Linked DNA regions of Homo sapiens: region 2 is linked to region 1. Evidence: fine-mapped QTL for protein levels in blood plasma. A gene starts in region 1. The other region holds a variant in brackets. All regions are shown on one strand. Distances are from middle to middle.

The links. PIP is the chance, under the fine-mapping model, that this variant and not a neighbour inherited with it causes the effect. The UK Biobank Pharma Proteomics Project read protein levels with antibody pairs (Olink). The fine-mapping took linkage between variants from a reference panel, not from the people measured, so its PIPs are less certain.
Region 2: its variant is fine-mapped to the plasma level of the RNF43 protein (UK Biobank, PIP above 0.99). The variant lies in the coding sequence of RNF43. If it changes the protein, the assay may bind it differently, which can mimic a change of level.

The regions. Positions count from the first base shown.
Region 1 is chr17:58,415,172-58,420,606 of GRCh38, forward strand. RNF43 (ring finger protein 43) reads right to left here and starts at 2,363. Exons shown (of 10, transcript NM_017763.6): 1 at 1,846-2,363; 2 at 155-791. The coding sequence starts at 406. HSF5 (heat shock transcription factor 5) reads right to left here. Exons shown (of 6, transcript NM_001080439.3): 6 at 4,996-5,435.
Region 2 is chr17:58,356,188-58,361,187 of GRCh38, forward strand. RNF43 (ring finger protein 43) reads right to left here. Exons shown (of 10, transcript NM_017763.6): 7 at 4,596-4,757; 8 at 3,962-4,064; 9 at 1,281-2,636. Among named protein-coding and RNA genes, the nearest start is that of SUPT4H1, 6.5 kb to the left of the region's middle. The variant C/T (reference allele first, on the strand shown) is at 2,561.

The DNA.
Region 1 (5,435 bases):
TAAATTTAGAATGCCAATAAGGCAGTATCTACTCTTTCTATGAAATAGAAAGCTAAGCAGTAGAAGCCCGTGTATGGTATTTCATTTGGGAGACAAAAGAAGAAAGACATATTTCAAACAGATGGAAAGTGAAATATAATAAAGTTATACTTGCCTGCATTAATTTTCCTTCTGCTGGAGTTATTTCAGCAACACCAGCAAACACACCTTCCAAAGTGAGATTCAGTTTTCCTGTGGGGTCCATTTTCAAGGGGATCACTCTGATAATAGCTTTCTGTTCTGCTGATCTTTCAGACTCCACCGCTGCTGCCAGTACCAGTCCTGTGCGTCCAAAGCCTGCCTGCAGGGTAGCCATCAGCAGCCAGGGCCAGAGGGCAGCCAGCTGCAGCTGGTGGCCACCACTCATGCTACCAGCTGCAGCAATGCACTTCAACCATACATACTGCTTCCACTAGCTAATACCAAATGCAGGTTCTCAGATCCAGACAAATGGAGGAAAAGAACATTTATGCTTCCGTTTCAGAAAGCCAAGTCGTAGTTTTGGCCCTTCCTTTCTCTAAAGTTTATTCCCAAAAACAGGTAGCATTCCTGATTGGGCAGAGAAGAGGATATTTTCAGCCCACATCTGCTGCAGGTATGTCATTTTCTCCCATCTTCACTGTGACTAGTAAAGATCTCACCACTTCTCTTTGGAATTTCCAACTTTGCTTGTGATTGAATGTCACTTCGTGAATTTGTATTATGTCAGATCACTTGGCATTGCTCTTCCATATGCATCAAGTTGCCAGGCACTAAACCCAATGTTCATGAACAAAACAAGGCAAAGTAAACAGCTAAGGCCATGCATCAAAGGTGAGCGTGAAGAACTCCAGCTCAGAAAAGGAAGGGATGGCCCTTTTTAAGCCATAATATGTGTTAATGGTAAATGACTAAATACCACAAGGAGATTTTTTTTTTAATGGAGGAGAAGAGGGAACAATAATAAAAATTTCAGGCCACACGTTGATGTCCAAAGATGCTACAATATGTATTTAGAAAAGTTTCCACATTAAACTGTATTTCAGTGTGGCCAGGTTTCTAGGCCCACTGCATTTACATACTTTTCATGAACTTAGACATACCATAATTTTTTGTGTTTTACCAAAATTTGCCTATAAATTAGGTGCTAATTTATGTATCTTCACACATTACAGGATAATCCTGAGCATCACAACCTTTTCCAACTTTCATAATTAGAGTATTTGAAAAGGTTAGCTTTCCAATTATTTTTCCCAGTTAAAATTCATATTTCCATCTCCATTTTCTTTTCTCTCTTAAGGATTCTTGATTTTATTCTCCAGCTCGGAAATGCCGAGCACTTTGATTTCCCATGAGATGCTTTTGGAAACTACTTTAATATCCAGATTTTATGATCTGTAATTTTCTAGGTTCATAAGAAAAACAAAGGACTATTCCTCACATGTATCCAAATTCCCTGAGGGGGTAGGGAATAAAAGGTAGGGGGAGCAGGGAGGCGATTAACCACAGGCTCTAGGTAGAATACCCTGAAAAAATACAAATAATCTTGAGTAGAATAGATCTGTGCTATTTCTAGGCACTATGAAAATTTGCGTCTTTGTACAAACACAGAATAAGATTTTTAAAATGTGCACCCTTAAGTAAATATAAATACACCTCACCCACAAAGCCCTCTGTGTTCCAAGGTCAAGTTTAAAAATATTATAAAGTCTTCAGAATAAGTGCTGAAAAGCCAAGCAATTGAACATGAACCTGTTATATGGATTCTTTTCTTTTGCTGAGGCAGAGGGAGGGGGGAAAAAGGAATTTCAAAAGAAATCTGCAAACCTGTTGCGCTGTCGGGCCCACTGGAATCCACGGGGGTGAAACAAATTCAATTATGCTTTTACAGATCCTGCTCAAAAAAGGTTTCAACTGCTTAACCAAGTACAGCTCATTCTTCCACCTTCTTACTCTGCAACCAAACCAAGTGCCCCATACTACAGGTAGGTGCCGAGAAATTCCGCAGCCTGAAAAAATAATCCATGCAGGTCAAAGGCAGAAATTTACTCCGGGATGAGAGATGCTGTCCCCTAGAACTAAATTAAACACTTACAGAAAATCCAAAATCATTTCTGAAACCTCCTTGCTAACAAAAGTTCTTTTTTTCTCCAAACAGCATATAAAATGATCAAGTCTTGAAAGAGAAAAGAAGCAAAGTAGCAAATACATCAACAATTCACTATCAGAAACACATAAAATCCCAGAGAGAGAGAAGGCAGTATCTCTGAATCATGGATGGACTTGGAAAGTTCGGAAGGATTCCGAGTGCTTCCTTTCAGAAAGACAATTCTGGATCAACTCCCTAGAGCAGGAAGCCTGTGGTTTGTAATTGGTGTTCTAGCTCTGACTCCCTCCCCTGGGACTGCAATCACGCTCTCTACCTGCTGACAAAGTGAGGGTGGAGCTGCTAGAGGCAACCACTCCCCACCCTGCCCCCCTCCTCCTGGTGCTCACACACAACACTTACTTAACCAGACCCGTTCTTTCGCTCTCCCCCCTCCCTCAGCTCCTCTACTCCCTCTACTGAGCCACAGCTAAACTGCATCCAATTCGATCCCGAGTACCTTTCTCTGGGTAAGCAAGCTACCACATGCAAATCAGGGCCACTCAAAGATATCTAAGCAGACTCTGCACCCAACAGAGCATAGATGATGGTATGAGGAAATAAACAGAAAAAAATAAAGGTAATCCGGAAGATAAAAGAATGGACACAAGGTTTTGCAAATATAAGTTCAAAAGGATTTCTGCTCATTCCAAGTTTGAGTGTCTATAAATGGCAGAAAGCCAGAATAAAGTGATCCTGTGTTTTAGTACTTACTGATTTATTGCTGCTTATGTCTGCTACCCTGGGAAGGGCTCTGTCCATTTTATGCTTAGCTTTTCTTCAGCTCTTACTAATTTAAATTCAGTAGCTCTGTCTAAACTGTGCCTATATGGAACTTTCAAATCAGGTTGATGTCAGATGTCTGGAATCCAACTGTTATTTTCTTTTCAATCTTTGGGAGGTGAAATAATACTATGGATCAGACCTATGCCTTCAATGTAAGACTCCAAATAAGTCCATGTCATAAATACAAGCCAAAGGGTAAAATATGATTAATGAGAAGAACATAGGCAAAAAGAAAATGAATTTCTGGCTAATTACCACATTCATGAACTATAATCCTTATTACTACCCTGCCATTAGAAATAATACAACAGTTTCTAATACATTTATAACATTTGAAGTTTCAAATTACCAGATTATATTTGACTGTGGTGAGACATTTTATTTCTGAACCGCTGCCATAAACTTTCAAAATTATACAAATGAACAACAATGTGGATATAGTTAAATCTAGTGAACTGTACACTTAAAAATGGTTATGATAGTAAATTTTATGTGTTTCTTACCTCATGTAAAAACGAATCTCTGATCATCTGTAAAATGCTGATGATAATAATTACGATAGGTCTGTTGTAAAGATTAAATGACATAATGCCTCTGAAAGCAAAAAGGATGAGTAGCCTATTGACCTTCAACATTGTTTCCCCTGTAGATAAGGTTTATGACAGTAGTTTCAGAATTTCAGATCTAATAACTAACCTAGATCAAAGACAAATTCGAAAATAAATTTTTTGTTTATTTTTGTTGTTTGAGACAGGGTCTTGTGTTACCCACGCTGGAGCACAGTTGTGCCATCATGGCTCACTGCAGCCTTGACCTTCATGGCCTCCCACCTCAGCCTCCAGAGTAGCTGGGATCACAGGTGCGTCCCACCACACCCTGCAAATTTTTTTTTTTTTTTTTTTGAGACGGAGTCCCGCTCTGTTGCCCAGGCTGGAGTGCAGTGGCGCTATCTCGGCTCACTGCAAGCTCCGCCTCCCGGTTCATGCCATTCTCCTGCCTCAGCCTCCCGAGTAGCTGGGATTACAGGCGCCCGCCACCACGCCCAGCTAATTTTTTGTATTTTTAGTAGAGACGGGGTTTCACCGTGTTAGCCAGGATGGTCTCCATCTCCTGACCTTGTGATCCACCCGCCTCGGTCTCCCAAAGTGCTGGGATTACAGGCGTGAGCCACTGCGCCTGGCCAACACCCTGCAAATTTAAAAAAAATTTTTGTTGGGCCAGGCGTGGTGACTCACGCCTATAATCCCAGCACTTTGGTTGACCAAGGTGGGTGGATCACGAGGTCGGGAATTTGAGACCAGCCTGACCAACATAGTTTAATTTAACATAGTTAAACTAAAAAATAACCTACAAATGGGCTTTGCCTCATCTATTCCTGCTTAAAACGTGCAAAGGAATGAAAAGACCTAGCCCTAGTAATTAATACACACACTTAATTGACAGAAAGAAGACAGTTACAAATGTGGTTGCCCTCTCTTGAGGAAACTCTGAGATTTGGAAATGATGATGATATGCATCATGAACCTGGAGACTTGGAGAAACTCAAGATCAAACCAAACAGCTCTATGTAGCTTAGTTCACTGTTTTAGATCACCAGAATTGCAAGAGCAATTATTCTTCAGCTTCAAAGTTTTGGAGTTACCCTCTAGGGTTGATATACTACTACATTTTCCTAGAGATGTCATAAAGATGCCATCACTATTGTAATGAAATGCCTAAGTCTCAATGACATCTACTAGCTAGTCTTATACATGAGATAGATCATCCTTCAGGATCTACTTTCACCTCTGGATTGATTAAATTTATCAAAGATCATTCATCCTTTTCCAAAAATGTAGGTTTCTGTAAAACATGTCTAAGAATTGTCCTTATCCCTAACGGCATTTAAAAAATTCCATTGCTATTCAAGTACAAATGAAAAAAAACTTTTAAAATTCAGATTATTTGAAAAATAAAGTAAATCTCATTTGAATTATACTATTAACTGTCATAATTATTGAATTTTCTATTAATCACCAAACAGTAAGAACAAGCAAGACAACAAGTCTAGTTGGAACACTCACTTTATTGTTGACTGATTGAAATTTATCAGTGCTTAAGGTGCTGAAATACTGAGGTACTAGTCAGGAACCTTGTTAGTTGACTAGTTGTGTCAGACCCTACTGGCTAATTCACAGGAAGACTTTATTATACCTCTTGCCATTTTGCCCAAGTCATTAATGACAGCTTTAGTTGATAGATACAAGGCGTGTAAGGATAGCAGGAGATCCAGCTCCTTGGTCTGCTGTATTCATATATAAAAATGTTTGGAAAGCTGATTAAGGCATTTCATTAATTAAGCCTTAAAACAACTGAAACCAAATCTATGCCAAGGTTCCTGCTTGACATGTGTTCCTCAAAAGATATTATCTCAACATCTATAAAGCTAAGAAAGCCATATTTAGGGGAAAATCTACACAGTATATTAGCTCTTCAACATGACAGA
Region 2 (5,000 bases), 59 kb before region 1:
CTGGAACCTAGCACAAAGCAGGCATATAGTCAGAAGGAAAAAAAGGAAGGAAGGAGAAAGGAAATGAATAAATGAATGAATTGGATGAGGGCAGCTCCTAGGTCCTGCAGGAAGAATTCCTACACTGAAGAATATTTCAGGACCTTTGTGTCACCTCCTGGGTTGGAAGGGTTCTAGTGATGGCTGTAGACAAAGAACTGTGTCATCCATACAATGGGGGAAGATGGGGAAGAGTAGAAGGTGGAAGGTCCTGAATGGAAAAGAGAGATATGTGGGCAAGTAAACACCATGTTAAAGTTGAGAATTTACGTGATCACTGCTTATGATATAGGGATGCACTGAATCCCCAAGAAATTAAGGTCAGTCTTATTAATAATGATGTGTTGAAGGGAAGTCCTCCTTGTTCTTTTACCACAGGGGAAGAGAAGAAAACCTAAGGCTCCACAGGGCTGCTGGGAACCACCTGTGGTTTCTCTCTCTCTCTTTTTTCTCGTTGTTCACATAGCTCTTCTTATATAGCCTCGTATTATGGTTATGTGTAATTATTTCTACTATAGCTCCCCCCGAGGAACACTTCTTAGCCTTCTTTGTATTTAGAACTAATACTGAGCTGTGAGCATTGGTAGAACTAAACCAGTTATTAAAATTTAGAAACACTTATGTTTGAGCTACTACCCCGGGGACCATTCCAAATGCCTCTTTTTTTTTTTTTTTTTTTTTTTTTGAGATGGAGTCTCACCCTGTTACCCAGGCTGGAGTGCAGTGGCGCCATCTTGGCTCACTGCAACTTCCGCCTCTTAGGTTCACGCGATTCTCCTGCCTCAGCCTCCTGAGTAGCTGGGATTATAAGTGCCCGCCACCATACCCGGCTAATTTTTGTATTTTTAGTAGAGATAGGGTTTCACCATGTTGGCCAGGTTGGTCTTGAACTCCTGGCCTCAAGGGATCCACCCACCTAGGCCTCCCAAAGTTCTGGGATTACAGGCATGAGCCATCACACCCGGCCTTCCAAGTGCCTTTCTGATGCCTCAGCCACACCAGCACCTCCCTGGGACCTCCCTGTGATCTGCCAACTAAAGGGGTAGCACCTGGCAGAGGTGGGGTGTTCCTGCACTCTAGCCAGCATGATACGCTGTCCCGATGGTTAAGTATTTTGGTTGTCATCTCTGCTGTATCCTTCTCAGCTTCCATCAACCCTTTGTTGGCTGACTTCACCTGTCCTGAAATATTCAGCTGTAGTCTCCTCTCCCTACCACACCCACTTCCCTCTGAAAACTCACCAGGCTGGGCCGACAGCACCTGGCAGTGCGGATAAGGGCATGGCCTGCCCTCTGCGGTGTCAGAACTCCATTCAGAAGGCCCCTCCCCAGGTGGATGTGGTTCCAGGGGCTGGCGAGGAGTCAGGCACAACCACACTGGCTGTGAATTTGAGTAACAGGGGCCTGGGGTTTCTGGTAGCAGCCTCTTGTCCAGGCCTGGAGGTCCACAGATCAAGGGGTGTGCCTCTGGGGACCAAGGATATGCCACACTGGGGGTGTAATGGGGAAAAATCTGGCAAGCTGGGTGCACAGTTGCATCCTGGGGCCGAGAGCCAGGGGTGGGCTCGGAGGGACCCCCCCGCCTTTTCCTCTGTGGGTGTCGGGCAGAGAGGCTGGATTTTTGCAAGTTGAACAGACTGCTGGTACTGGGGCAGATGCTGGAGGCGTCAACTGGGCCAGGGGCTGGCTCAGGGAGGGCCCTGGGGCACTGTGGGTTAGAGAGCCGCCCCGAAGGGGCTGCTGAGTTGGATCTGGTGACTTGCTGATCAGGAGAAGGTGGCTCTGGCTGGGGCTGTGTCCGAGGAATAGGAGGCCTGGACTGGGGGACTCCGGTTTCTGGGCCAGGCTTCCTGCCATGCCACTGGAACCGCTTTTTGTAGTGGTGGTGCCGGTGGCGGTGGTAGTGGACATGGCTGGAAACCTGGGTTTCCCCTGTGGGCACCACCGAGTCCAAGGAACGAGGCCGAGAGGTCACACTAGGCTGCATGTCCACTCGCTGGGGATCCCCTTTAGGGCTGCAGTACACTAGGGGGTCAAAGTCACTGCTTAGGGAGCTGCAGAAAGTAGAACTGCTGCCATGGACCCCCTGTAGGCTGATGTCCGTGCAGTTGACCACAGAGTCACTGGAAGAGCCATGACAGGGCCCTGAGCTGGAGTCACTGGCTGGCCCATCTGCCAGGTACCCACTGCGTTCTGTGCAATAGCTTTCTCCAGATCCACTGCTGTCAGGGGGCCTGGCCCGGCGTAGGGGCACTGGGCAAGCAGCAGGGTGCTGTGAGGTGGATTGGAGGTGGCTCAGTCCCCAGCCTTGTGCATAGGGGTGCTGGGCTCCTGCCAGGCGCTGCTGCTCTCCTGGAGCCCGGGGATGTGCAGCTCTGGGGAAGCGGTGATGCCGAGGGCCCATGCCTGGCTCCTGGGATGGCAGGAAGGGACCAGGTCGTGGGGGCCGAGCCACTGCACTCCGGGAAGGGCCCAACAGGTAGGCAGCAGGGAGGTGGTAGTGGGCATGGCCGGGATGCTGG[C/T]GAATGAGGTGGAGTCTTCGACCTGGTTCTTGGTAAGATCGAGAGGGTCCCAGGGACTGGGAAAATGAATCTCCCTCTGGAAAAAAGAACCAAGAGCACAGATGTTTAACTCTACAAACCTACAGAGAATGCATTCAGAAAGACATGGCTGTAGCTAATCTATTTGACCCTGAGTAGCCTGTGAGCTCAGAGTTTGGGGGATCAAGGACGTGCCTAAGCTGCCTGTGCTCTGGGACTCCTTTGTTCCCTCCAGTCAGGTTGCCTGCCCTGGGAGGGCCACTATGCGTGTCAATCCCTAAACCTCCCCTCAGCCATTTGGAGCTCTTTCACCCAGGGCCACTGTTAGCCCATAGGGCACCTGTGGGTACCTTAGAAAAAGGTTCTCTTTCCTCAAGATATTTATTTCACTTTCATCTTTTAGAAAATTATGTTAACATACTGATTTTGTTAGAATAGAATATTTTATTGCCAGAAAATTGGAATAATAAACATATAAATCACCCAGATTTAGAATCAACAAACTTGCCATGAAATACAAATAATTTTTACAATAATAAAGATTATCTACGGCCGGGCGCGGTGGCTCATGCCTGTAATCCCAGCACTTGGGAGGACAAGGCGGGCGGGTCACAAGGTCAGGAGATCGAGACCATCCTGGCTAACATGGTGAAACCCTGTCTCTACTAAAAGTCCAAAAAAAAAAAAAATTAGCTGGGCATGGTGGCGGGCGCCTATAGTCCCAGCTACTCCGGAGGCTGAGGCAGGAGAATGGCGTGAACCTGGGAGGCGGAGCTTGCAGTGAGCCAAGATCGCGCCACTGCACTCCAGCCTGGGCGACAGAGCGAGACTCCAACTCAAAAAATAATAATAATAATAATAATAATAAAGATATCTACATGCCAGGCACGGTGGCTCACGCCTGTAATCCCAGCACTTTGGGAGGCCAAGGTAGGCAGATCACCTGAGGTCAGCAGTTTGAGACCAGCCTGACCAACATGGAGAAACCCCGTCTCTACTAAAAATACAAAATTAGCCAGGCATGGTGGCGCATGCCTGTAATCTCAGCTACTCGGGAGGCTGAGGCAGGAGAATCGCTTGAACCCAGGAGGAGGAGGTTGCGGTGAACCGAGATCACGCCATTGCACTCCAGCCTGGGCAATGAGAGTGAAACTCCGTCTCAAAAAATAAAAATTAAAATTAAAAAATAAATAAATAAAGATATTTACATTTTGAATGACGCTTCCCCTCGAGTGAGGCACTCTGGAGCAGTGTACAGCCCATACAACTATGGTGGCAGTTCTGCTTTCTCCCCAGCTTCAAGGCTGCAACCCTTTCCCAAAGGGAAGCCACATTCTAGACCTGTCTGCCTACACAGAGGGGAGTCCTTGGCCCACCTCCTACCTGTGATGTTGAACATGCAGAGGGGGCAAGTCCGATGCTGATGTAACCAGGGGTCCACACAGTTACGATGGAACTCATGGAGGCAGGAAATGACCCGTAGCTCCTGGAGAAAAAGAGGGGGTCCAAACCAAAGGCTTCTGTAGCCATAGGAATTGCCAGGAATCAGGACATCCCCCAACTCCCTTAGGCCTCTCCTTGCTATTATCTACTTGTAAAAGACCTCACAGTAGAATAGGAATGGTATGAGCTTTGGCATCACATAGACCTGGATTTTGCACTTAGCTGCATGACGTTGGGCAACTTTCTTAACAGACAGTTTTCTGCTGTAAAATGAAGATAAAAAAATGAATCTAACCCCACCCTTCATTGCCATGGGTCTAAAATGAGATAATGCATCCAAAGCACCACTGCAGCCTGGCACGTGGTACACTCTCAACAAACAATAGTGCTCTTTCACTGGAAGGTCAGAAAAGTGACCAAACTTCAGGCTGGTCCCTGATCTCTGCCTCATGCAGGACACATGGGAAACAGATGTAGCCAGGGTACCCATACCAGCCCCTAGGCCTGCCCACCCCTCCCCCAGCTTCAATCTCCCCAGTCTGGTCATGGAGGTGAACCACAAGACCTGCCTTACCTGCCCCTCAGAGAACTCCTCCAGACAGATGGCACACACAGGGGCTGAGCTGCAGCTGCTCCCTGAGTCTGGCCACTCACCCCGGGCCTGCCTGCAGCTGGCCTGGTACCTCCTGGTGGCCAGCTGGCTGATGGCCCAGGCTGTTCTCTGCTGAAGCGGATCCTGGGAAGAGGAATGGGGCTCAGATTGGGGCATGGGCTCCCCTTCCCTCCCTCTCTGGACCCAAGCTTGGACTCCGTTCCCAGTCACTCAGGTAGATCACATGGCCAGTTGAACATCCTTAGGAGTTCGTCTCCTCGGAGCTCATATGTGGCTCTGCCAAGCATGCCAAGCTCTCCCAGTCCACCCACCTGCTTATACCATTAGCTTTTCTTCCTTTGATGACCCATGAGAGAAACTTTTTAT